Homo sapiens: one gene and its partners. The protein of the gene in region 1 interacts with the protein of each later gene in a biochemical or structural test. Each region holds a gene or a part of one and is shown on either strand. Other genes may lie near its edges.

The links.
Region 2: the proteins of DTNB (region 1) and SNTG2 form a complex in vitro, tested with the Homo sapiens proteins (one study listed by BioGRID).
Region 3: the proteins of DTNB (region 1) and KIF5B form a complex in vitro, tested with the Homo sapiens proteins (one study listed by BioGRID).
Region 4: the proteins of DTNB (region 1) and DMD form a complex in vitro, tested with the Homo sapiens proteins (one study listed by BioGRID).

The regions. Positions count from the first base shown.
Region 1 is NC_000002.12:25,376,743-25,383,618, forward strand, and holds the end of DTNB (dystrobrevin beta), read right to left. Parts: intron 2,582-6,876; coding exon 2,577-2,581; coding exon of another isoform or gene 2,548-2,576; intron 812-2,547; coding exon of another isoform or gene 588-811; 3' UTR 501-587; downstream 1-500.
Region 2 is NC_000002.12:1,359,843-1,366,883, reverse strand, and holds part of SNTG2 (gamma-2-syntrophin), read right to left. Parts: intron 1-7,041. UniProt on the Homo sapiens protein: Adapter protein that binds to and probably organizes the subcellular localization of a variety of proteins. May link various receptors to the actin cytoskeleton and the dystrophin glycoprotein complex.
Region 3 is NC_000010.11:32,008,478-32,011,429, forward strand, and holds the end of KIF5B (kinesin-1 heavy chain), read right to left. Parts: 3' UTR 538-2,952; downstream 1-537. UniProt on the Homo sapiens protein: Microtubule-dependent motor required for normal distribution of mitochondria and lysosomes. Can induce formation of neurite-like membrane protrusions in non-neuronal cells in a ZFYVE27-dependent manner.
Region 4 is NC_000023.11:33,201,530-33,208,570, forward strand, and holds part of DMD (dystrophin), read right to left. Parts: intron 1-7,041. UniProt on the Homo sapiens protein: Anchors the extracellular matrix to the cytoskeleton via F-actin. Ligand for dystroglycan.

The DNA of each region.
Region 1 (6,876 bases):
GCAGTTCTTCTGCTAAAAATAACATCCTGGAGCCCAGGGAGGAGGAAAAAATAAATGAAAATCACCGGGAACGGGACTTGATCACGTGTGCCCGAGCCCAATCGACCCCTAAGGCGAGAGGCTGCGAGCAGCGCCCCCGGCGGCGCGCCCCCTGGCGGCCACGGAGTCCGCGGCGCAGAGACCCTCCCGCCCTCTCCGAGGAGGCTCAGCCCGGCTGCGGCGCGCGGCTGGGTCTCCGCCCCTCCCTCCCGGGCTGCAGGCGGCGGCATCACACGGGGCGGGCGGAAGCCTAACCAGTGTGAGACTATTTTTAGCACCGTGGCCAGGGTGTGAATGTCTACAGAGCCGAGCAAGGCCTGACGCTTTCTTTGCACGCTGGAAGAAACCTGTTGGTTTTTAAAGGTCAAAGATAAGGAAACTTGTGCCCCCACGTTCAGGAGCACCCCACGTGCTGGCCAGACGCCAGGAAGTGTTTCATCAGGTCACAAACACACAAGAGCTTGGTGCTTTTTCTTTTCTCTTTTCAACCTCCAGGTGAATTCCTGATGCGGAGATGAGACCATGCCCTGAGGGGAGTGATGAAGGTGCTAGTACATGCAGGGCTGTGCAGGGGGAGGCCCACTAGCTGTGCCACGCAGCCCCTCCCCGCTTCCCACCGGCTCTGGCTCCCCTCTCCCTGGCGGGTGGAGTGACGTCTGGCAGCCTGCAAGCCTGGTCCAGGTGTGCGGTGGAAAGATGGAGAGGAATGTGCCTCTGGGGGAAGACCTTGCCTTCGCCATGTCGGCGCCAGCTTGCTCCTCGTCCTCTGTGCCTGCGCAAGACACACTCACCGTTAGTCACGGGCACTGTTGAGGGTTCAGGACAAAAGCTGCTAACATCTACTGTGAACAGGAGGCCCTGCAGGGAGGGGCTGCTAGGATGCTGGGCGCCTTTCAAGCGTTGGGCTGAAGGGTGGTACCTAGGGTCCTCTGCCATCATTCCTAAGGGTCAGGAAGTGTTTCCGTGGAAGAAAGAATTGGGTTCACAATGCAAGGTTTGAATGGGGTGATTTCTTGGGGAGAATTGTGGCCCAGGAGAAGGGCAGGGAGGACTGAGGTGTGCCGATGAATACTAAGAGGAAAGGGAGGAAGCCTCAGCCCCCGGCCAGCAGAGCGCAGGCCTGGGCATCCATGAATCCGCGGCACCCAAGTTTTATACTCTTAGTTTAACTCTCGGCTGTTGGTGTTTCTCATCACCCCTGATGTGGGTCAGAGAGCGCAGGATTAGGAGGCAGAAGACCCGGCTCCAATTCTGCTTCTGGCATGGAGCTTCTGGTGTGGGGCATTGGTTTCCTCCATGTGCAACAAGGCGGTGGGGGCACATGGCTCTGCCACGTTCCCTTGCACCCCAGTTCCTTCTGCCCCGGGGAGAGAGGGGCTCTGGCAGGCTCCTGCAGGGCGAGTCAGTTCCTGATTTCCCTCCTCGGCTGCCACGGCCTAGGCTTGCTTGGGAAAGGGCCTTGCCTGAATGTGCACAGTGAGTTTAGGGAGAAGCCTCTCTCCAAGCCCCTGGGGCGCTGTGATTTCCAGGGCAGCGAGAGAATGTGCGTGGCCCAGGTGCTGCCCTCTCCTCAGCTCGCACAATCCAGAGTCAGCGCAGGCCGAGGCTGCAGGGGCCCCGGGGGAGCGGGCAGAGGCCTTCAATGGCCTGGCGCGGTTGGGCAGAGAGGGCCAGAGGCTATTCCAGGATGACACGACTTGGGAGGGTCTGAAAAAACCCCTTTTCTGGATTGTGCAGCTAGGGCCCTGACTTCTTTATTCGAGGAAGATGCCTAATTTTTAAATATAAGAGGTGGGGGGGTGGGAGGAGGGGAGGGAAGACAAGATTTTAAAATGGAGAAGTCTGATATCTTGGTGCTGGGACTAGAAAGAATTAAGGTGTTGAGCTGGAAAATGGGAATGACTAATTCCTAAAGGCAATGAGCATCTGCCACTGGAGCAGTCCGTACTTTTCTGCATTGCTTCTTCAGGAAGTGAGAAGGTGCAGCTTGGCCGGGCACCATGGGAAGCGGCTTGGTCAGCCCTGTAGTCAGTGTGATCCTGCATGAATCACATGTCTGTGGGTCAGGGACTGTGATTCGGTGCAGTGCTGGGTGACAGAATCCAGGGACGCACTGGCTGTGGTTTGGATCCCAGGAAGGAAGTGGGCAGTGGCTGTGGGAAAGGAGCATGGGAGGCAGTGCTCCCCAGGGAGGTGGCCTTGCTCAGCACACCCTGTTTCAGCCAGCAGTGTCGGGTCTGCCAATGCCATCCCAACACAGAGGACACCAGGCCATGCCCAAGGACCAGGCCTGCAGACAGTGCTGTGCAAGACAGGACACAGCCTAGAAACAGGGCAAGGAGGGCACATGGCTGGGGTGGGCAAAGGGAAGGGACAGTTGGGCTCTTGCATCTTCACCTGTTAGGACTGCCCTGGCTAGGGACCTGTGACTGCAGGAAGGGAGGGGAAGGGAAGATGCTGAGGAAGGAGGGAGGGGCCGTGGGGAGGCAGAGGACTCTTTGTACTCACCTGAGCTTCCTCTGTGTCCGGCTCCTCTGCTAACCTGTGGCAGCATGGGCAGAAACAACACACTGAGGTCACGGCCAGGTCTTCTCATGCCCCAGACTATCTCAAAGGGGCTTCCCTGACCAACCCACCCCAGGGGCTTCCTTGCTTCTCCCGTTACTCGTTTGTTGACTTTTCCCACCCAGGTATGACAGCAGGGTAGAGTCATACTTTCTACTACTGTAGCCAACCCGAGGCAGCCATGGAGACAGATGCTTCTCAGGAGAAGGAAAGTCATTAAAAAATGGAATCAAAACTCCTTAAATCCAGGGAGCAGTTACATGAGGGGGGCAAAGCCCACTCAGCTCTGAAAGTTCCCCAAGGGAACATGACTGCGCCTTGAGTGAGGGCGGTCCCCCTCCTGCAGATGGTCTGCTTTGAAAAGCCCTGCGCTTGCTCACCCGAGGCTCGAGCACTGCCTGGCCCCTCCTGAGCCTGTTCTGTTCTCTGAGGGCCATTGCTGTCCAGCCTTGCACCAGGGCTCTTTATGGATGCAAACTGGATTTACAGCCCCCACACCGGGATGGCAGGGTATGGGAGGGGAGACTGTGAAGGACACAGGAGCATAACATGAGGCTGTGGAGGGTGGAGATGATGTACTATGGGGGAAGGTGTGTTAGTCTGTGCTTCTTCTATGTGTCTTGGTTACACTTCTCTTGAGGAGATGCAGAGGAGGAAGGGTACCCCGATGGAGCAGAAGCATTCCCCAGGATGCAGCCAGCCAGCCAGGGGTGAACAGGGAGAGGCGTGAGGCAGGGGTGAATATGGCAGGGAAGTTCAGCTTGGTCTAGATTCTTCAAAAGTTCCATTTGACTCTCACAGTTTCCTTATCGAGCAGACTATGTTTGCCTGATGGTGCTGACCAAATTCTGTTTATATTACGTCAGTATGGTTTCAACCCCAAAGAAGCAAATATACTCTCTCTCTTTACGGTTGACAGTTACAGATCTCTGGTGTCCAGGTGACTGCAGTTAGTCCTAGGTCTGTAAAATCTCAGGCCTAGCTCATGGCAGAGAATCAGGAGGTCCACCCATAAAAACACTTAGTCTTATAAAAATGCCCATGTATGAGCTACGTTGTAGTTTCAGGGACATATCCTAGAACCTATATAATGTGGAGAGCCAAACATAAAAAACTCTACCATCTCTCACCCCAACTCTTAACACTCTTGGCCTTAGGGATGACACCAGAAAGTCACATACGTAAAAATTCAGGCATTCCCACAAAAAGATTTCACATAGACATACAGACATTCTGGTATATGCACTGAAAGACAGACAAGGAGCTCTAAGGGCAAGAGGCACAGAAAGACAGAAGAGATGCAGACAGGGCAGTGCAGGTGTAAAGACAGTGCCCTGGGGCCTGGAGTGCCGGGAAAGGGAAACCCAGTCTGATGCGAACAGGGCAGTGCACGTGCAGAGACAGTGCCCTGGGGCCTGGAGGCCCGGGCGAGGGAAACCCAGTCTGATGTGGACAGTGGAGTGCAGGTGCAAAGACAGCACCTTGGGACCTGGAGGCCCGGGCAAGGGAAACCCAGTTTGATGTGGACAGGGGAGTGCAGGTGCAGAGACAGCACCCTGGGGCCTGGAGGGCTGGGCAAGGGAAACCCAGTCTGATTCCCATGTGAGGCATGGCCCACACTCAGACTCGAACCAGGATAAGGGCTAGAGTTCGTGGCCAGGGCAAGGCCTCAGTGGCTGGGGCAGTCCTAGGTTTGCTTTGGTGGAGTGAAAAGGACTGAGGAGAGGCCATGGGAAAAAGCTACTGGGGAAGGGAGGGGCAGGTGAAGGGAGGCCAGAGATGCAGCTGTTATGTCTTCAGCCAGGAACATTCCACATGAATGCTAGGATTTGGTTGGCATGTGCATGTGCATGTGCGTGTGCGTGTGTGTGCGCGTGTTTGCAGCATGTGTTTACACCAGTGTAAATTTATCTGTGTATCTCTTCACCTTTTGCCCTCCTGCCTTCTTTCTTGTCTGTGTGGGTAAGTCAATTGTTTCTACATTTCTATGAAGCATTCCTGGATGTCTGAAACACTACTGCTCTCTAATGTGACCTTTTATTTTTATTTTTTAGATAGGGCTTTGCTCTGTTATCCAGGCTGGAATGCAGTGGCGTGACTATAGCTCACTGCAGCCTTAAACTCCTGGGCTCAAGCAGTCCTCCTGCCTCTGCCTCCAAAGCAGCTGGGACTACAGGTGTGCACTACCACATCCGGCTAATTTATTTTTTGTAGAGATGGGGTCTTGCTATGTTGCCTATGCTGGTCTCAAACTCCTGGCATCAAGTGATCCCCCTGCCTCAGCCTCCTAAAGTGCTGGGATTACAGGTGTAAGCCACCATGCCCAGCCTAGTCTGACCTTTTGGTGTCCGTGCCACATATGTCATTCTCATCAACTCGTTGGCGCTGCTGTCCACTTCCTCCCAGGCCTAGCTCAGACTCACTAGACGATTTCAGAATCTGCAGAATCTTCTTCCTCTTCTCCCAGTTTCTTCCTCAGCAATTTCAGGGTCCTTGCTGACAAATTCCTTGCCCCGTGAGACTCCAAAGACGACCCTGTCTTAGCCACTCCAGCCCCTATGGGCCAAGAATGCTCCAGACCCACTGTCCTGTAGGTTTCCCTTTCTTGTCACAGCTTCCTTACCTGTATCTCCCACTTGGCTTCTACCCTTCCTTAAGTAAGACCACTCCACTTCCCTTAGTCTACCAGTTCAGCTCAGACTAAACCATGGGCATTGGAGTTGAACTCAGGCTGTGCCATTTATCAGCTGGCAGGTTCTTTCACTCCCCCGAGCCTTGTTCAGAATTCCTCCCTGGGAGGGCTGCTGCTGGCTCCTCCTCATGCTTCCTGCTCTCCCTACCTTCACCTCCTTGGGGTGACCAGCCATTGCATTTCTCTCCCCGATAAGGTACTCTCTATCTCATCACCCCATTTATTTCCTTTGATTTGTTCATTTATTGACCTCCTACTAAGCACCAGGCACTGGAACACAACATGAACAAAACAGACTAAAATCTCTGCCTTGAGGAGCTGATGTTTAGGAGGAATCCAGCAACTAACACATTAATGCACAACAGAAAGAACAGCTCACCCTCAAATGTCCAAAGAAAATTTTGTTTTCTGTTCAGTATAACATAGAAGGATGAAGATTAAGAGCACGAAGTTTGGAGTCAGAAAGACCCAGTTCTCTGCCTTTTTTTTTTTTTTTTTTTTTTTTTTTGAGACAGAGTCTCTCTTTGTTGCCCAGGCTGGAGTGCAGTTGCGTGATCTTGGCTCACTGCAACCTCTGCCTCCTGAGTTCAAGGGATTCTCCTGCTTCAGCCTCCCGAGTAGCTGCGATTACAGGCATGCACCACCACACCTGGCTTATTTTTGTATTTTTAGTAGAGACAGGGTTTCACCATGTTGGCCAGGCTGCTCTCGAATTCCTGGCCTCAAGTGATCCGCCCGCCTCGGCCTTCCAAAGTGCTGGGATTACAGGTGTGAGCCACCACGTCTGGCCTAAATCTCTGCCGTTTAACAGCTACATGAACAACATCTCTCTGAGCCTATTTCCTCATGGGTAAAATGGGGATATTCGAATCTGTCTCACAGTGTTAAGGATTAGATGAGATCATCATACGTGAAAATCATTCCCTGCAGCTCTTCCCAGATGTCATGTGTTAAGCAGGTTCGATATATAATGAAACTAGGAAGGCACTACTGTCCTTTGCTGACACCTTCCCTTCTTGGTTTTATTCTTCCATGAAGCCACAAAACCATTTGGCTATTCTAGTCCACAACAATCTCTTCCTTTTCAGAAACCCTTATTATACTTATATGCTGAAAGTTTTATGATTAGCTTTTTCTGCCACTTCATTTGATCTATTTATTTTGCATTTTTGGTCTTTTTTTTTTTTTTTTTTGGAGATGGAGTTTCACTCTTGTTGCCCAGGACGGAGTGCAGTGGTGTGATCTCGGCTCACTGCAATCTCTGCCTCCCAGGTTCAAGTGATTCTCCTGCCTCATTCTCCCCAAGTAGCTGGGACTACAGGCGCCTGCCACCACACCTGGCTAATTTTTTGTATTTTTAGTAGAGATGAGGTTTCACTATGTTGGCCAGCCTGCTGGTCTTGAACTCCTGACCTTGTGATCCACCCGCCTCAGCCTCCCAAAGTGCTGGGATTACAGGCGTGAGCCACCGCACCTGGCCTGGTCTTGCTTTATTAACTAGATCATAAACTTCTCCAGTCAAAGGGTCATCTTTTGTGTTCTACTTGTATCTACTTCCTGTATCCCAACTACCTATCCCA
Region 2 (7,041 bases), about 24 Mb from region 1:
GCCTTTTGTATGGGTGCGTGTGGGCTTCATGCCAAGGCCGCCCTTGGGAGGAACAGTGCCTGCTGTGTGGGTGCATGTGGGCTTCATGCCAAGGCCACGCTTGGGAGGAACAGCGCCTGCTGTGTGGGTGCGTGTGGGCTTCATGCCAAGGCCACGCTTGGGAGGAACAGCGCCTGCTGTGTGGCGCAGAATAGGCAGTGTGCACAGCACGGCGGGAAGCGAGGAGGGGCCTTGTTCACCCACCCTGTCCCCATGGCTACGGGAGAGCAGGAAAGGGTGCCCCAGGGAGAGTTTCCTAGAGAGACGGTTATACCCCTACCCCCTCCCAATAAAAAAACTGAAACAAACTCCTGGATCCTTACCTCCGCATGTTACAGACACTAAATGTCCTGTAAAAGCAAAAATGACCCACAAAAGGTTCATCTTCTCTCCACAAACTGCCCCACATAAAGTCCCTGTGTCAAATCAACAGAAAAGTCCACAGTGAACCCCAAAGCTGACACAGAAGTTAAAGAAACTGTTTTTAGAAGTTATTCAGTTACTGGGGAAAAATCATCTTCCTGTTTTTGATGGTAAAATACGAATCTTGCCGTCCTGCCACCCCCATTCTATTGGTAGAAAAGAAGGTCTAAGTGCATTCTTCTAATGTTGTCTTTCTTCTTTGTTTGCATAACAAAATTCAATAAAATGAAGAAAATAAAATTTATTTTGAGGTGACTGCTAATTGATTGACATCCTATTTTCTAAATCTCACCAAAATTCTAGCATATTCTAAACTGCTGAGATGACACCAGAAAGAAAGATAAATCATTTTCAAGAAGAAGAGCAACGCTAAGGCCTGTCAGTTCCACAGACATGCTCCTTTAAGCTCTCGAAAGGCAGGATCTTGGTCATTTTCATTCCATGGCAGAATGAGGGGGTGGAGAATGGGGCCCCAGGCAGGATTGGAGGTCACACATCACCGGGTAAAGCCCTCCCTCCCCAATAACATCCATCTCAGCTTTTCGGAGCTGCTTTTCTTTATAACTCAAAGACGTGACATCTCAAAAATGACTTCAAACTTCCCTGACAGCATGAAGTCCCCTCGGCCTCTCCCTGGTCCTCTCTGCATGCCTTTCTTTTAGAAACTGCTTCTCTCTTGCAATAGGTACAGGACCCAGCTGGACCAGCCAGAGCCCAGTGGCAGCTTGGTACAGATGACAGGGAGAGGGAGGCCAAGATGCCTACATTGGTGTGACCAGCTGTGAGAAGTGAATACCTGAAGCTTGTTCTAATACCACTAATGCCAAGTGGAGAGCCAGCGAGCCAGCCTGCCGGAAGAGGACTTCAACACAGAGGAACACCCCATGCAGGGATACACAAAGAACACTGGGGGACATTGGGTACCAACATGCTGGGAGCTGCCCCCAACCTCCTAGTGACTGCAACCAAAGGCTTCATCTTTCCTTTATTCCAATTTGAATTAAGTTCCTTCCTATGCATGTGAATGACTCTTAACATTGACAGCTACAACACTAATTATTTTGATCATTTCAAATTGTGATGAGCAAAATGTTCAAGATGTTGAGGTGTATTCTCCTGCCAAAGCTTCATAGTCTTTAGGTAGTTTCATAAAGCGTCATTACACTTGGTAACCAGCATCCCTCACTCTGGTCATGAGTGGAACCCAGGGCCTGCCCAGCCCTTGTGTTAAACTTTAATTCAAGCTGGATTCGCCAATCATACCCAAAGCGTGAGACTGTACTCAAAATCTTTTATTCATTTTGACTTATCCCTGTTAGAGGAAAAAAAAAAAACCAAGTAGCTTTCTAGAAGAAACACAAGGTTCTTGCAAACTTAGCACATATTGTAATTCAATGTATGTATGTGTTTCCAAATAGCAATTACTGAGCTTTAAAGGGACTTTTGGAGAAAAAGAGCCATAATGACCATATCATTCATGCTTCAGGGTTTTGGGTTAATTTTATTTTTTTTGAGACGGAATCTCACTCTGTCGCCCAGGCTGGAGTGCAGTGGCACAACCTCCACTCACTGCAAGCTCCGCCTCCTGGGTTCACGCCATTCTCCTGCCTCAGCCTCCTGAGTAGCTGGGACTATAGGTGCCTGTGACCACACCCAGCTAATTTTTTTTTTTTTTTTTTTTTTTGGTATTTTTAGTAGAGATGGTGTTTCACCATGTTAGCCAGGATGGTCTCAACCTCCTGACCTCGTGATCCGCCCATCTCGGCCTCCCAAGTAGCTGGGACTACAGGCGCCCACCACCATGCCTGGCTAATTTTTTTTTGTATTTTTAGTGGAGACAGGGTTTCATGTGTTAGCCAGGATGGTCTCGATTTCCTGACCTCGTGATCTGCCAGCACCGGCCTCCCAAAGTGCTGGGATTACAGGCGTGAGCCACCGCGCCCGGCCAGGGTTTTGGTTTTATACATAGAAACTGAAAATTGCTTTACAAGTTCCCAAGATGTATCCAATAATAGCACAATGCACAGAAATAAGAAGCCAAACAGCTACCAGTAATAATGCACATATTCAAAACAACATCAATAGTTTTTGGTACCATAAGTTGAAGTTACACTGCATAATCTTTGAAAGTACTAGCAATGGCTGGGTATGGTGGATCACGCCTGTAATCCCAGCACTTTGGGAGGCCGAGGTAGATGGATCACCTGAAGTTAGGAGTTTGACACCAGCCTGGCCAACATGGTGAAATGCTGTCCCTACCAAAAAAAAAAAAAAATACTAAAAATTAACTGGGCATGGTGGCAGGTGCCTGTAATCACAGCTACTTGGGAGGCTGAGGCACAAGAATCACTTGAACCCGGGAGGCGGAAGTTGCAGTGAGCCGAGATTGTGCCATTGCACTCCAGCCTGGGCAACAAGAGTGAAACTCTGTCTCAAAAAAAAAGAAAATAAAAGAAATTACTAGCTAGCAGTGAAATCGGTCACACCACTAAATTCCACACTAAAACTCAATGAGTAGTACTGAAAGCCAGGAATGAAATTAAAGCTTATGAAACAATACTCAATCCATTATGTCATGATCCAGATACTGAATAAACAAGCATCCTGTGGGCATTTCACTGAACATCTTCAATTCAGCCAAAAGCTGAGTCATGATATCTCTGGTCTGGTTAATTTTCTAACCAAGTATTACCAGCAAGGCTATCTTGAATTATGAATTTTTAACTAGAGCTGATTGAAATCACATTTTGACATTTTGTTTGAACAAAATACTTGTGTTGAGTTCTAAGCTGGGGACACCCTGTATGGATCCCTCGCTGCACTCCTCACCTGTGTTCACATGTCGGTCATGGGCTGATGTGTTTCCACCTGCAGAGGAAAGGGCACCTGCTGGCTCTCTGTGCAGGAAACAGTGTGGAATGAACAGTCCAATATGTTGGGTTAGGGAGTGTCAGCCTAATACAATGACAGAGAGAGGCTCTCCCAAAGTTTATTTGGGACTATGTAGGCAATTGCAAGCTGGGACATATGTGCTATAAGAGATTATAGGGATATCCAAAGAGGCTGGGATTCAGGAAAGCTTAAAGGCAAAGTGAGGAGGTTACAGAAGTTGTTTTGAAACCGTTATCCTTGGCTACAAGGATCAATAGCAAGGGGAGCTTGTGTCCTCATAGAAGACTTGTCTTTGCACAAGGTTGCAGTGGTCTTTGTGCAGCTTGTGGTGTTGCCAGGGTCTTTTGTGGTACTTCTTGTTATCAGGTAAATATTCATGGTTCCTCTTTCATGGGGGGGGTCCATTTTGTGAGGGTTTCACAGGAGTCATTCCATCTCAGCGCCGGTCACTTTCATGGAAGTTCTATGGAAATGCTCAGCATCGGTGACTTTCATGGAAGTTCTACTGAAATGCTCAGCGTTGGTGACTTCCATGGAAATTCTACTGAAATGCTCAGTGTCAGTCATTTTCGTGGAAGTTCTACTGAAATGCTCAGCATCGGTGACCTTCGTGGAAGTTCTACTGAAATGCTCAGCGTTGGTGACTTTCATGGAAGTTCTACTGAAATGCTCAGCATTGGTAACTTCCATGGAAGTTCTACTGAAATGCTCAGCATCGGTGACTTTCACGGAAGTTCTATTGAAATGCTCAGCGTCGGTGACCTTCGTGGAAGTTCTATTGAAATGCTCAGCGTCGGTGACTTTCACGGAAGTTCTACTGAAATGCTCAGCGTCGGTGACCTTCACGGAAGTTCTACTGAAATGCTCAGCGTTGGTGACTTTCATGGAAGTTCTACTGAAATGCTCAGTGTCGGTGACCTTCATGGAAGCTCTACTGAAATGCTCAGTGTCGGTGACCTTCATGGAAGTTCTATTGAAATGCTCAGCATTGGTGACTTTCACGGAAGTTCTACTGAAATGCTCAGCGTCGGTGACCTTCGTGGAAGTTCTACTGAAATGCTCAGCATCGGTGACCTTCATGGAAGTTCTACTGAAATGCTCAGCGTTAGTGACCTTTGTGGAAGTTCTACTGAAATGCTCAGCGTTGGTGACCTTCACAGAAGTTCTATTGAAATGCTCAGCGTCGGTGACTTTCACGGAAGTTCTACTGAAATGCTCAGTGTCGGTGACCTTCATGGAAGTTCTATTGAAATGCTTAGCGTCGGTGACTTTCACGGAAGTTCTACTGAAACACTCAGTGTTGGTGACCTTCGTGGAAGTTCTACTGAAATGCTCAGCATCGGTGTATCTCATGGAAGTTCTACTGAAATGCTCAGGGTCGGTGACCTTCGTGGAAGTTCTACTGAAATGCTCAGCATCAGTGACTTTCATGGAAGTTCTACTGAAATGCTCAGCCTCAGTGACTCTCATGGAAGTTCTACTGAAATGCTCAGCATCAATGACTTTCATGGAAGTTCTACTGAAATGCTCAGCATCAGTGACTTTCATGGAAGTTCTACTGAAATGCTCAGCGTTGGTGACCTTCATGGAAGTTCTACTGAAATGCTCAGCGTTGGTGACCTTCATGGAAGTTCTACTGAAATGCTCAGCGTTGGTGACTTTCATGGAAGTTCTACTGAAATGCTCAGCATCCGTGACTTTCATGGAAGTTCTACTGAAATGCTCAGCATCGGTGACCTTCATGGAAGTTCTACTGAAATGCTCAGCATCGGTGACCTTCATGGAAGTTCTACTGAAATGCTCAGCATCGGTGACCTTCACAGAAGTTCTACTGAAATGCTCAGCGTCGGTGACTTTCATGGAAGTTCTACTGAAATGCTCAGCATCGGTGACCTTCGTGGAAGTTCTACTGAAATGCTCAGCGTCGGTGACTTTCATGGAAGTTTTACTGAAATGTGATGGTATCAACACAGCAGCATTTCCCAAAATGTGTTTGATATTAAAAAGTTATATTTTTTAAACACTCTTTGTTTGCATAGATTTGGAGAAAAGTAGATTGAAGAAGGCGGGATACTTTTGCTATTGTGGAACTTCTCAGCCACCTCACTGTGTTAATTGCACTGTCTGTCTCCAATAATGATTTGCCATGCTGTGGTTTTCAAAATTCTGTGAGTTTTTTTTTTTAAATGGGTCAACTTGATGACCATTTATTAAATTCCATGAGAATTTCGTGCTACACACTCAATGGGACAAATCATTGTAATGTAAATTTTCTTATTGTTGGTGGAGAATGATGTAATCATAATGTCACAGGCTGTAACAAATAAAAGATGTTTACATGTTTATTTAAAGCTTCACGTTGGCCCCCACAGATGGGACAATGGAATCTGAATCCAGTGGCTGAAGCACAGAAGGCAAAGCTAGAAAAAGCACTGAGGCTTGGACCAAAGGCCCCAAGGACGCAGTTTACTGCTCAGGGCTGTGTCTGAGCTGACTGAGTTGATGGATGCTAGTGGAATGGAAGAGACAGCGCTGGGGACTGCATCAGCTTTGAATATTCCATAAGGTCAGAGCCTGTGGGTGGGATCTCCAAAAGAACTCTCTTAAGTAAGACAAAAAACCACTGGGACACGCAGGTGACTGGAATCGTTATGCAGAATCAGGCTCCAATGGTAGGCCAAGCAGACACTGCTCTCTTATTTAGAGACTCCATCTCTACAAATATTGAAAGAAAAATCACTCATCCCCTTCCTGAGTGAAGGGTTTGCTCATCTGTGTATGATGCTGGATGTAGGGGGGTGAAATCAGACACCGTATGTTTGCTGCTTCTGTCTGAGTGAGAAGGAAAGAAAATCCCCTAGGGACAGACTTTTTTTTTGTTTGTTTGTGTTTTTAAGAAAAGGAAATTAAAAACACTAGAGTAGCCTCTTTTAGTCACACAAATATAAGGGAAATAGAAAAGGCAAGGAGCTTCCCCTCACTTGTTGTGGCAGGTGCCAGTGCACAAAGAGTCCAATAACCTTCTGGAAATAAAAATATCTTGATCCTTTTGAACTTCCACCCTATACCTTCCTTCTAAGCTGTGCTGCTGGAAGGAACACACCCCAGAGAGAGCTCTCCTGAACAGGCTGGGCTGGTGATCCAGGCTTCATACAAGATCCTCCACTCTGAGGGCAGAGAGGGAGGCATGCTTCCAAAGCTGCGGTGGCTGGAGCTTTCTGGCACAGGTGAGCTCAGAGCACAAGGGCAAAGCCTCCAGATGCTGGGAAAGCCAAGAAAACAGACTGTCCCCCAGAGGCTGCAGGAGAAAGCAGCCAACACCTTGATTTTAGCCCTAAGAGACAAGTTCTTAGAGAACTGTAAGAGGATAAATGTGTGTCTCTAATCTACTATATTTGTGTTAATTTGTTAAGCATCGATAGAAAATGAATACAGATAACTTCTTTCAATCATTTAATGTACTTTTTTTTTTCCTATGGGAAAAATGGGATAGAATTTGTTCAGTGCCCTTAAATGTAAAGAAATGAAGATAAATAACCATTTTTGGTTGAATAAATTGAGCTTTAGTTTCTTTGTTTGCTTGTTTTTGGTAATATTGTTAAATGGAAAGAAGATATGGACAAAGTAAAATGTTTCTCAATATTACTACAGAAAGGCAGCATTCTAATGAAAGAGAAAAAACATGCA
Region 3 (2,952 bases), on another chromosome or scaffold:
CTATACAAAGTAAAATACAGGTGACACCGGTCGGGTGCAGTGGCTCGCGCCTGTAATCCCAGTACTTTTGGAGGCCGAGGCAGGAGGATCACATGAGGTCAGGAGTTCGAGACCAGCCTGGCCAACATGGTGAAACCCCATCTCTAATACAAATACAAAAATTAGTTGGGCGTGGTGGCATATGCCTGTAATCCCAGTTACTTGGGAGGCTAAGGCAGGAGAATCACTAGAATCCAGGTGATAAGAGTTGCGGTGAGCCGAGATCACACCACTGCACTCCAGCCTGGGCGACAGAGCAAGACTCTATCTCAAAAAAAAAAAAAAAAAAAAAAAAAGTTTTATATGTGAGACTGGTCATTCATTTCTAGCTCTTTAGCCTATACATTTAATATCTGCGGTCCAAAAGGCTGCAAGACATTAGGAAACAAAATATACATAAATATAATGACATATCAGTCACTATTCTGTCAAGACAGAAGGCCTGAACTCAGCCATGTAAAATCAACCTAACACTTAAGTTTTAAGAAAGTCATTACATTTCAAAAAATTTTCCTCTTTATTTAAACATAAAACGCATTTACAACATGCAAGTTAACTTAAAATTAAACGGTGTCTTCCCAAACCAAGTATTTGTGAATGTATCTTCAAGCACTGAAAATAAACCAACATATTCCACAGGTAGACTCAGACTCTCTTCTGTCACCTCATGTCAAATGGAGTTAAGCACAAACTGAGAGTTACGCACAGTAGTTTTCTTAAGTTAGGCAAATAATTTAATTAATCGCCATGAATAAATATTCTCTTTATTTCATTGAGTTTCTCTTCTGAACCATCTATCAATGCCATTCAGAGGAACGTTAATATATCCAGTCAAAAAGACACTGCAAATTGAAATGTGTCAATATCCTAGATGATCAGAAATTTTCATTTTTAAGAGTAAGTGCTGTGTTTAATGACCTACCATAGCAAAAAGCAGTTCACTGAAAACAAATTTATGAAATTCTTGGTACACTTTATGAAAGTCTGAAATTATAAATAGAAAAGAACCATCAAGATACTTTTTAAAAACCTAACATTGTATATTCTGAACCACATGCTAATTAAAATTCGTTGTTCATTACACAGCACCAATACCCATGATACATCTTACAAGAACAAAACTAACATATTTGGAAAAAAGAGAAAAAAAAATTCTGCTTCATTTACGAATGTTGCCAAAGGAGGCAAGTTTTCAACTGAAAACAAAACATAAAGGTCTATGTGGATGCAGCCAAATGTTTCTCCATTTAGAAAATCATCATAAAAGGTGGCAGCACTTTTTTTGCTTGTTAACTATATTACTTATAACTGGCTGCACCAACATTTCATCTCAATTTTTGGAGTGTTTCTTCTGATCAATCCTAAAAGCAACACAATCATTTTAGAGGTTGCAGACTACAACAGCAAAGATTTTTGACTATTAAAAAAATAAATAAATAAATTTATATTTTAAATCAAAATTATTACAAAAGTGGAAATTACAATAGTTACGGAAATAGAAAAATAAGCCAATTATGATCTGAGTCTTCTGACTATGGCTCCAAATTTAATACAAATATCTGTGTATAAAACTTTTGCAAAAAGTTAATTCTGCCAGCAAGATCCTAACACAGAACTTTCCAAGTTTCTCTGCTAACCTTAAATCCCCATTCTCTGTGAATTTCTGCTAACACAGTTGCAGTCACCGCCCCCCTACCACTGATGAAGCAAATAGTGAAATCTCTTTCCCTATTACTTTTACAGTTTCCTAAAATAAGCTGTTGACTTACTTTAATCATCTGAGGAAAAAGTGGCAAAAATACGTATACACTTAGTACTGATTACAAAATTATCGGCTATGGCCAAGAAAATAATTTATCTAATGATTATTAGTGACTTGCAAACAATTTACTATTTCTAGACTAAAGAAATAAATTAGTGTACAAATTAGTGTAGCAGGTTAAAAACACCTCAGGGATTTCAGACCAAAATTGACCTATATATATTTTTAATTCATCATATATCTGTCCTGTTTCTTCATTTTTCTCAATTTCCACACGCTATAAATTTAGGTCGGCCAATAAAGTACTAACCGTATAAAATTATGTTTAATCCTATAATATCTTAATTCATTTTACTAATATTAAAGATGACAAATTATTACCTGTCCAATACTTATATTAGCTAGCAGGCTCACCAGAATAAAGCAGAGTATTTTAATTCCATCAAGACTTGTTGAGTACAGAATCAGGAAAAAGAGAAATATAATTCCTTTTCCAAACTCCCTTAAACTAAGATCTGCTTTTGATACTTTAAAATATTTCTATTCAAAATAACTCGGCAACAGGCATTTCATGAGATAACAAGTAGCCTTGCTCAGTCTCAAATGCCTATTAGGCATTTGTAACGTTTCAGTGCTCAAACAGTAGTTTTCAGGAGCAAACTTCAGAAACAATACAAGTAATTTTAACCCTGATATCATCATTTCAAGGGATTTTAAAATACAGTACTGACTGGATATATTTTATGGGCATGTAGTGTTGTTAAGTGGTAAAATTTAAAGACATTTAACCTAAATGTTCCATTTTCTCTTAAGAAAAAAAAAGGAAGACGTTTTAATAGGAAAAGAAAAACAAGAAGCAGTAGCAGCTAGGTAATTTAAACTGAGATTAAAAAATAAACATACACAAAAAATACAAAAAGTACAGTCCTATAAGGTACAGTTAGCTTGGCACAGTAAAGACTAAATTTAAGACACGATAGACAAACTGTGTAATAAATAGGGCCACAGTTGTAAACTGTCCTTTTTCCCTCCTAAGATGCCAAAATTGCACTCTAGTTGTGTTGGGAAGCAGCAGAGTTTACAAGAAGAGTAGGTAGGAAACAGCTGTACAGGCCAGGTATAATTTATACATTTTTTTTAAAAGTTATAAT
Region 4 (7,041 bases), on another chromosome or scaffold:
CATAATATTAATAGTCCACGTTACTGGTACACTCTAGAATTGTACAGTGTACACTATATGAATGTATGCAACTAAATATCACACTGTGGATGACTAACATAATGAAGATAAGAGAAAAATTAGTTTATGTAAAAAGGCAACAGTAATTATAGTAACTTAAATAACCTACTGTTTATGCCAAGTACTATTCAGAATAGTATGGCACGTTAATCTATGTAAACCATTTTTTTACAATACTAAATCATGTTCAGGTTAGCCCAGTTCTTAGCTTTTTGTTCATGTAGCACAGTTGCCTGTACATAACTGAAATAAACTCTAAAAGAACAACTAGTGAGACCACTCTAAGGATGGCTAACTGTAGATGATTACAAACAAACCAGGGCTGCATTAGTTTTATTTTTGATCTTTTTCATCTTCACAAAGTAAGAAGAGTGAGATAGTAATAAAATTGTGAAACAAGATAACTGTTATGGATATTATCATAGACAGCTCCCTATGCAAGTCTAGAGAATGGGCATGAGTTATTTAGGATATCTCAGTTTTTATCTAAGAAAATATAATATGCCAATGTCTATAGGCTTTGAGTAAACAACCCAAAATTTTAATGGGTTTTATTTTTAAAGAGCATCCTCAATGGGACATGTCTAGTTCTTGTTAGAAGATACTATGATTCCTGCCATTTTATATTTTGTTCTATCCTTTTTAGAATTCTATTAAAATCTGAGAGATCGTGACAACTGACTGGTTAAGAATCTTTAATCCTACTGTCATGCTGCCACCATTAAAATCCTGACTCTACCACGTACCAGCTGAGCTACCTTAAGCAAATTACTTAATCTCCCTGTACCTCTACATATTCATCTGGTAAATTTAGATGATTATGTTTCCCCACCTTCTAGAGTTAATATGGAACTTATCACATATGTATGTGATGTAATCAGAGAAGTGCCTGACACTTATTACAGGCTTGTTAAATGGTAAATACAGTATTATCATTGAAGATTAGGTGAATCTAGAATAGTGCTATGCACACACAAGGTACTGTCAATAGCTGTGTATGTAAGACAGATCAATGTTTCATTAATCCTTTTTGCCTCACTGCTTCTTGCAATCATTCTCTAATTCACATCTCTGTATGTCCATACTCTTATGCCTATTTATAAAAATGGATTCTTCAATGAGAATGTCCATAATCACACTATTCATAAGTAATCATTTATGATTGATTTGTACCATGCTTTATAACTTTCTTGATATTTTATAGTAGTTGTACGCATATACATATGTGTGTGTATCTGTTCTCTGACTTAGAGTTGCTGTCTCATAAAAAGCAAAGAGAACATAGGTGTTCAACAATGTTGAGTTATAAGCAATTAAAAACCTAATGTTAAAAAAAGTTGCTCAATATCATATTACTATTCTATCGAGTCTTACTTCCTCCAAAGCTAACTGATAAGTACATTACATTCATCCATGATTAGATTGAATTACTCAAATGCCTTCTATCTCTTTATTGTGATTCTGGCTTTATTTAAACTGAAATGTCAATGTTTTCTAGGTATTTTTACCATTTTTGCAGATATTGGGATAATCACTTTCACTAACGGTCCTCCAGAATTTTTAGACATTTCTCCAATAAGCATCTATATTAACTAAACTAGCATTAAATAAAGTGCAAACTTACCTTGTCATAACTATGCAATTCTGTATTCTCTAAAGGATGATTTTTCATATTACTCAACAATTCTGACTGAGCAATTGAAATTGAGACTATGATAAATGTTTTACACTGAAGGCTCATTTCATTATACAGTAGTCAGTTGAAATGGGGTTTCCGAAGAAGGTATTTTTAGGAAGTGCAGAGTACAGGAAAAAGCTGAATACGTTATACAATTTAAATATTTATTGAAGCTTTTCTACTAAGGCAACATTTTGGTAATATTCACAGAAATAGCAATATGGGAGGAAATTAGGGGTAAATAGATGGTAGAGACTGTGGAAACCAAGACACCTAATGCTAAAAGTGGGATCCTCATTCATGAAGTCATTAAATTGGAGATCGAAAGGAACAGACCTCTTTATGGAAATATTATTTTCCTTAGAATTTCATCATTTTTTCTAGATGTGTCTTCTCTGATTTTTTTTTTTTAGTGCTTTTGTCTTCTTTATTGAATTTCCGATCTCCTCTTCACACTCTATTATCTTTCTAGCTGGTCTCATCCACTCCATGAGTTGCATATTTAAATCCCTAATAATGACTTCATTTCTAGGCACAATACCCACGCGCTACATAAAAATACAAAACAAAACAAACACCTTAGCATCCACACCCCTAATCCTTCCTGTTGTTCCAATTTCCCTTCCAATCTCCTTGCAAATGGCACCATTATCCACCCAGGTGTGCATTTCATGGAGCACACAGCATGCAATACAACACCAATTCCTATTGATTCTATCTCATATACAAATCTTGAATAGATTTACTTCTTTCATCTCCACTGTCCCCATTCTAGTCCAAATCACCTTCTTTTGGATGAGCTACCGTAATTGCTTCAGATTGATAGTCCTTCATCTACCCTAGGCACTTGCCAATCTCTTTCACACAAAACAGAGTGATAGTCTTAAAAAATACAAATATGTTTACATCAGTTTTCTACCTGAAACCCATAAGGCTGTCCATTGATCTTAGTATAAAGAGAAAAATAATTTCTATAACCTTCAAGGCTCTGAATGATTGGACCCCAGTCGGCCATTCAGATGCAAGCTTGTTCCACACTTTTCTGCCCTCACTGTACTCTAGGAAAGCTGTACTTGTTTTAGATCTTTCTCCATACCATTTTCCACATTCAGAAACATTGCTCCCTCTGACAGGGACATTTTTGCTCCCTCTTTTCTTTTGGACAACTATACTCTAACCTCATTCTTCTTTGCCTTGCTTTGAATATTTTTTTTTTCTCAGAAGTATTTCCCCAATTTCGAAGACTGGTCTAACTCTCCCTATTATACATTCTTATTACAATGTGTGCTTTATTCTATAGCCCTTATCTCCAATGCAAGTAGTTTGCGTGTGTGTGTATTTAATATGCACATCCTCCTTGAAATGCTAGTCTCTCTTTGAGTTCACTTGTTTAGAATACTATCGCCAGAGCATAGCACAGTACCTGGCACAAAATGGGCACTCAATATGTGTATTTGTTACATGGACAAATGAATCAATAAATGGATAACAAATCATCAGCTGTAAGTCCCTTCTTTAAACTGTGGTCACCCAAAACCACACAATACAAGTTTTAGAGAGTCACTTATTTTGATACTTTTATTTTTGGATTTATTTTGAGAGCCAATCCATTTTCAGACATTTAAAGTAAAACACTGCAAAAGCCATAGGCTTGAGCAAAGTGAACCTCTGTGATAACACTTGGTGCTCTCTGACAGCCCATTAGAGACGGGGTGTGTACACCTAATCCAAAGGAATCCTCTAGCTCTTCAGCAGCTGTTCACATGGCTCATGCCCTGCCCTTCAGCGTCTACTAAATCAGGATTCCCCAGCTGTCTGAGCTTCCCGTAAGCGATTTTAGTTAACCACCTACAAGCCAACATTTCTTGCATCTGATTACGCTCTTTAAAGTCTAATTTCCCTTTTGCTTCCTAGTTATTTTGCAACATGTGAGTCATTGGGATTCATCATTTTTACAGATTATTATTTTTTCACTTACTCAACTAGTTTATTAATATTTTGTTCACTTAGTCACCAATTTATTTCTAATACATCGTTCTTAAGCACCAACATAAAAAGGAATTACTCAATTTGCCTTTGATGAAAATACGTGGGCCATTCTGATTTTGTGATTTTTCTTTCTTATTTCTTTAATTTTTCCTCACACAGCTTCCAAGGCTAAAATCTGCACTTGTAACAGTGTACTGACTCCCTTGCCCTTTAAGTCAGCACTTAGCTCAGGCTAAGGTACTATTGCAACCGTAATCTGATAAAGGAAGAGACAAGTTGAGTGCAAATAAAGATGAGTGCCAGGAATGAGAAAAAAGCTACTGATGTTTATGCCCTTTTATAGTCCTGATTCCATGACAGTCTTAGCCAAAAGCAGAGTGGAAGAAGGGAGAACGCTTTAAAACAAAACAAAACAAAAGCCAAGAAGAGGGTAAAAACATTTAAAGGGTAAGCATTTTATTTGCCCATAATTGGAAATAATATGGGACACCGTAATGGTAATTGTGCTCAGCTAACACTGACCTTTTTTAAAAATCAAAATTTTCATGATAGTGAAGACAACACATTTAAAAGTTGACAAATTAGCAAGAGACTTCGTGATATATATGTGAATTCCTCATTGTTGATATGCCCATGTATGGTTTTCATATTTATTAAATATAAACAAAAAACATCATGATTCGAGCATCTGATTTTTTGAAGTTTCTTTAAAATTATCTTAATCCTCTCCAAAACCCATTAAGCCATCTACATTCTCATTTCATTACATGGATAAGCATTGGCTTTAATAATGCATTTTAATGTACCTCCTCTTCGTTGACACAACCACATTTTTCTACTAAAATAAATAACTAAACTAAAATGAATAATAAACAAAAATAAAGGCAAAGCTCTTCCTCAGATTCTTTTATTCAAATGGCAATTAGACCTACATATTATTCACCAGTCTTAGATATATTTCAGATTTCCAAATTGGCATGAGAAAATCAATTCATCAATTTGCTAGCATTTTTAATTTATGGACAATTATTTTCTTAAAATGGTATGTAATCAAAATACTGAGTTAAAAATTCTGAAAGAGTCATTTAAGAACAACAACAAACAACAACAGCAACAACATTTTATCAGCATGGCAAGGAAATGACAACTCCATTTCAATTAAAGGATCATTGTCCATTCTCCCCCAGTTCCCATTAGTGAGGAATGGGGTTCATAATGACAGAGTGAAAGTGAGGCATTGAGGGAGAAGGCAAAAGATCACAAAAGAAAGCAGGAATACATTGATTTCTAAACCAAATCCAGACTACTAAGAACATTGGTTTTCTCAGGGCTTACTATCATTACATATACTACGCAAAGTCACCTTCAGAGGTTGTAGGCCTCCAGAAAATTGCTCTGTGTGTTCCGTTGCCTACTGAAATTCCCAAGTATTTTGAACGAGTGATATCAGATTAAAATAAAGATCGAGCTCAGAGTTGAATAGAAATTATCCCTTAAAATGGCAGCCTAAACAGAAGATGTGAGCTATAAAAGAGGGAGTACTGATCTTTGTGTTTTTAATGGGAATGAGGTAGAGGTTGTATGGCCGTGAGATGAGGACTCTTTTTATTTTATTTTTTTTTAACTTTTAAGTTCAGGGCTACAAGTGCAGGTTTGTTACATAGGTAAACTTGTGCCATAGGGGTTTGCTGTACAGATTATTTCATCACCCAGGTATCAAGCCTAGTACCCATTAGTTGCTTTTCCTGATCCTCTTCCTCCTCCAACCCTCTACCCTCCGAAAGGCCCCAGGGTGTGTTGTTTCTCTCTATATGAGGACACTTTTAAGCATAAGACAGCAGAGCCATTTCCCTTCCTCATTCTCATTTGTCTGCTGCCTATCAGAATTGTGCTTAAGAAAATTTATATGCCCTTAAAACGCTGGAGCCAAATGTATTTTTTTGGTCTTTTTGTTGGGCCATATTCAAGGAAGTAATCTTGAATGGGGAAACAGAAAGGCTATGCCCTGGGTGTTAAAGTATTTCATAATCTCTAGAGGAGCCATCTGGTTTAAGAAGGCACATTGAATGCTATAATATGCTGTAATATATGAGGGAAACAGACTTTTTATACTATCAAGCCTTTCATGAAAAAATTTCATGAAAAAATAAACAAAATCATTTTAGCTTTTAATCTTGGAACTATATTTAGTATAGGAGTGATTCACAAATAGCAGAGTTACTCTCCCATTCGAAGGGGTTATCAGAATCTCTGGAAGACACATTCACTTTTAGTATTAAGTAGAGGGAGCTTGAAATTTTGCAAGGATTTTAGGGACAATTCTATAAGTGACATAAATAGAAAAAACCCTCCAAACTTGGTAAAATAATAAATTATCCCATGGTGTTGCCATTTTAACTTTGATATCTGTATTAAAATGAAACTTCAGAACTCCAAACATATGTCAATATTTTATAGCATGAAACCCCAAGGAAGTCTAACTAATAGATGTTTTACGTAGGGAAAAGGTGAAGACTACAAACTATTTATTTGCTTGGTTTGTTTGTTTTTTGAAGATCAGTATACTGCATTGAGCACACTCTACAAGGGGAAATATTTTCATGAAACCTGGTTGCATTTAATAAAAACGTTTATTTCCCACACTGCAGCCCATGACCTTCCCCAGAAAATATTCCAATACGAACCAACTGCCTTGATAACAGAACACAAACCTCCTAGGACTATAGCAGGACTTTGTGAGAAAGAAAACCATTGCCTCTCTCTGAATCCAATCAAAACCTGAATGTACTGTATAAAAATAAACCAAGGTCATCATTATTCCTTGTCATTGTGATTTGGCGTGCCTTCAAATTATATACCCTGTATATTTCAAATAACTGCACCGCCTCCATTAACTGAGTTTGACATCACTTTAATCAATGTATCTTTTCAGAATGAAAGGCAGAAATGTCAAATTCCTACCATTATAAATTCTTTTAACTCTCTAATCTGCATTAAATAAAAGGTTGTCTTTGAGAAATAATAAATGCTCTAAAGAAATATAACTAGCATCAATTTTATTTTAAAATGTAACTGGGAAAAGATTAAATGTCAACACATCTCTTCATACAGAGGTGATTTCCCAAGAAACTATTAAAGCCTTACTTACATGAGGGGCCCCTCCCAAGGCTGTATCCAATTTTCTATTATTTTTCTTAAAATAGCACCCCCAATTGTATAACCTCAGGCCCCATAAATCCTTTCTTCCTGGTTCGTTCTGTGTTGTCAGACAGGGAATGTACATTAGTCTCATTTGTCAATTCCTTAAAAAATGA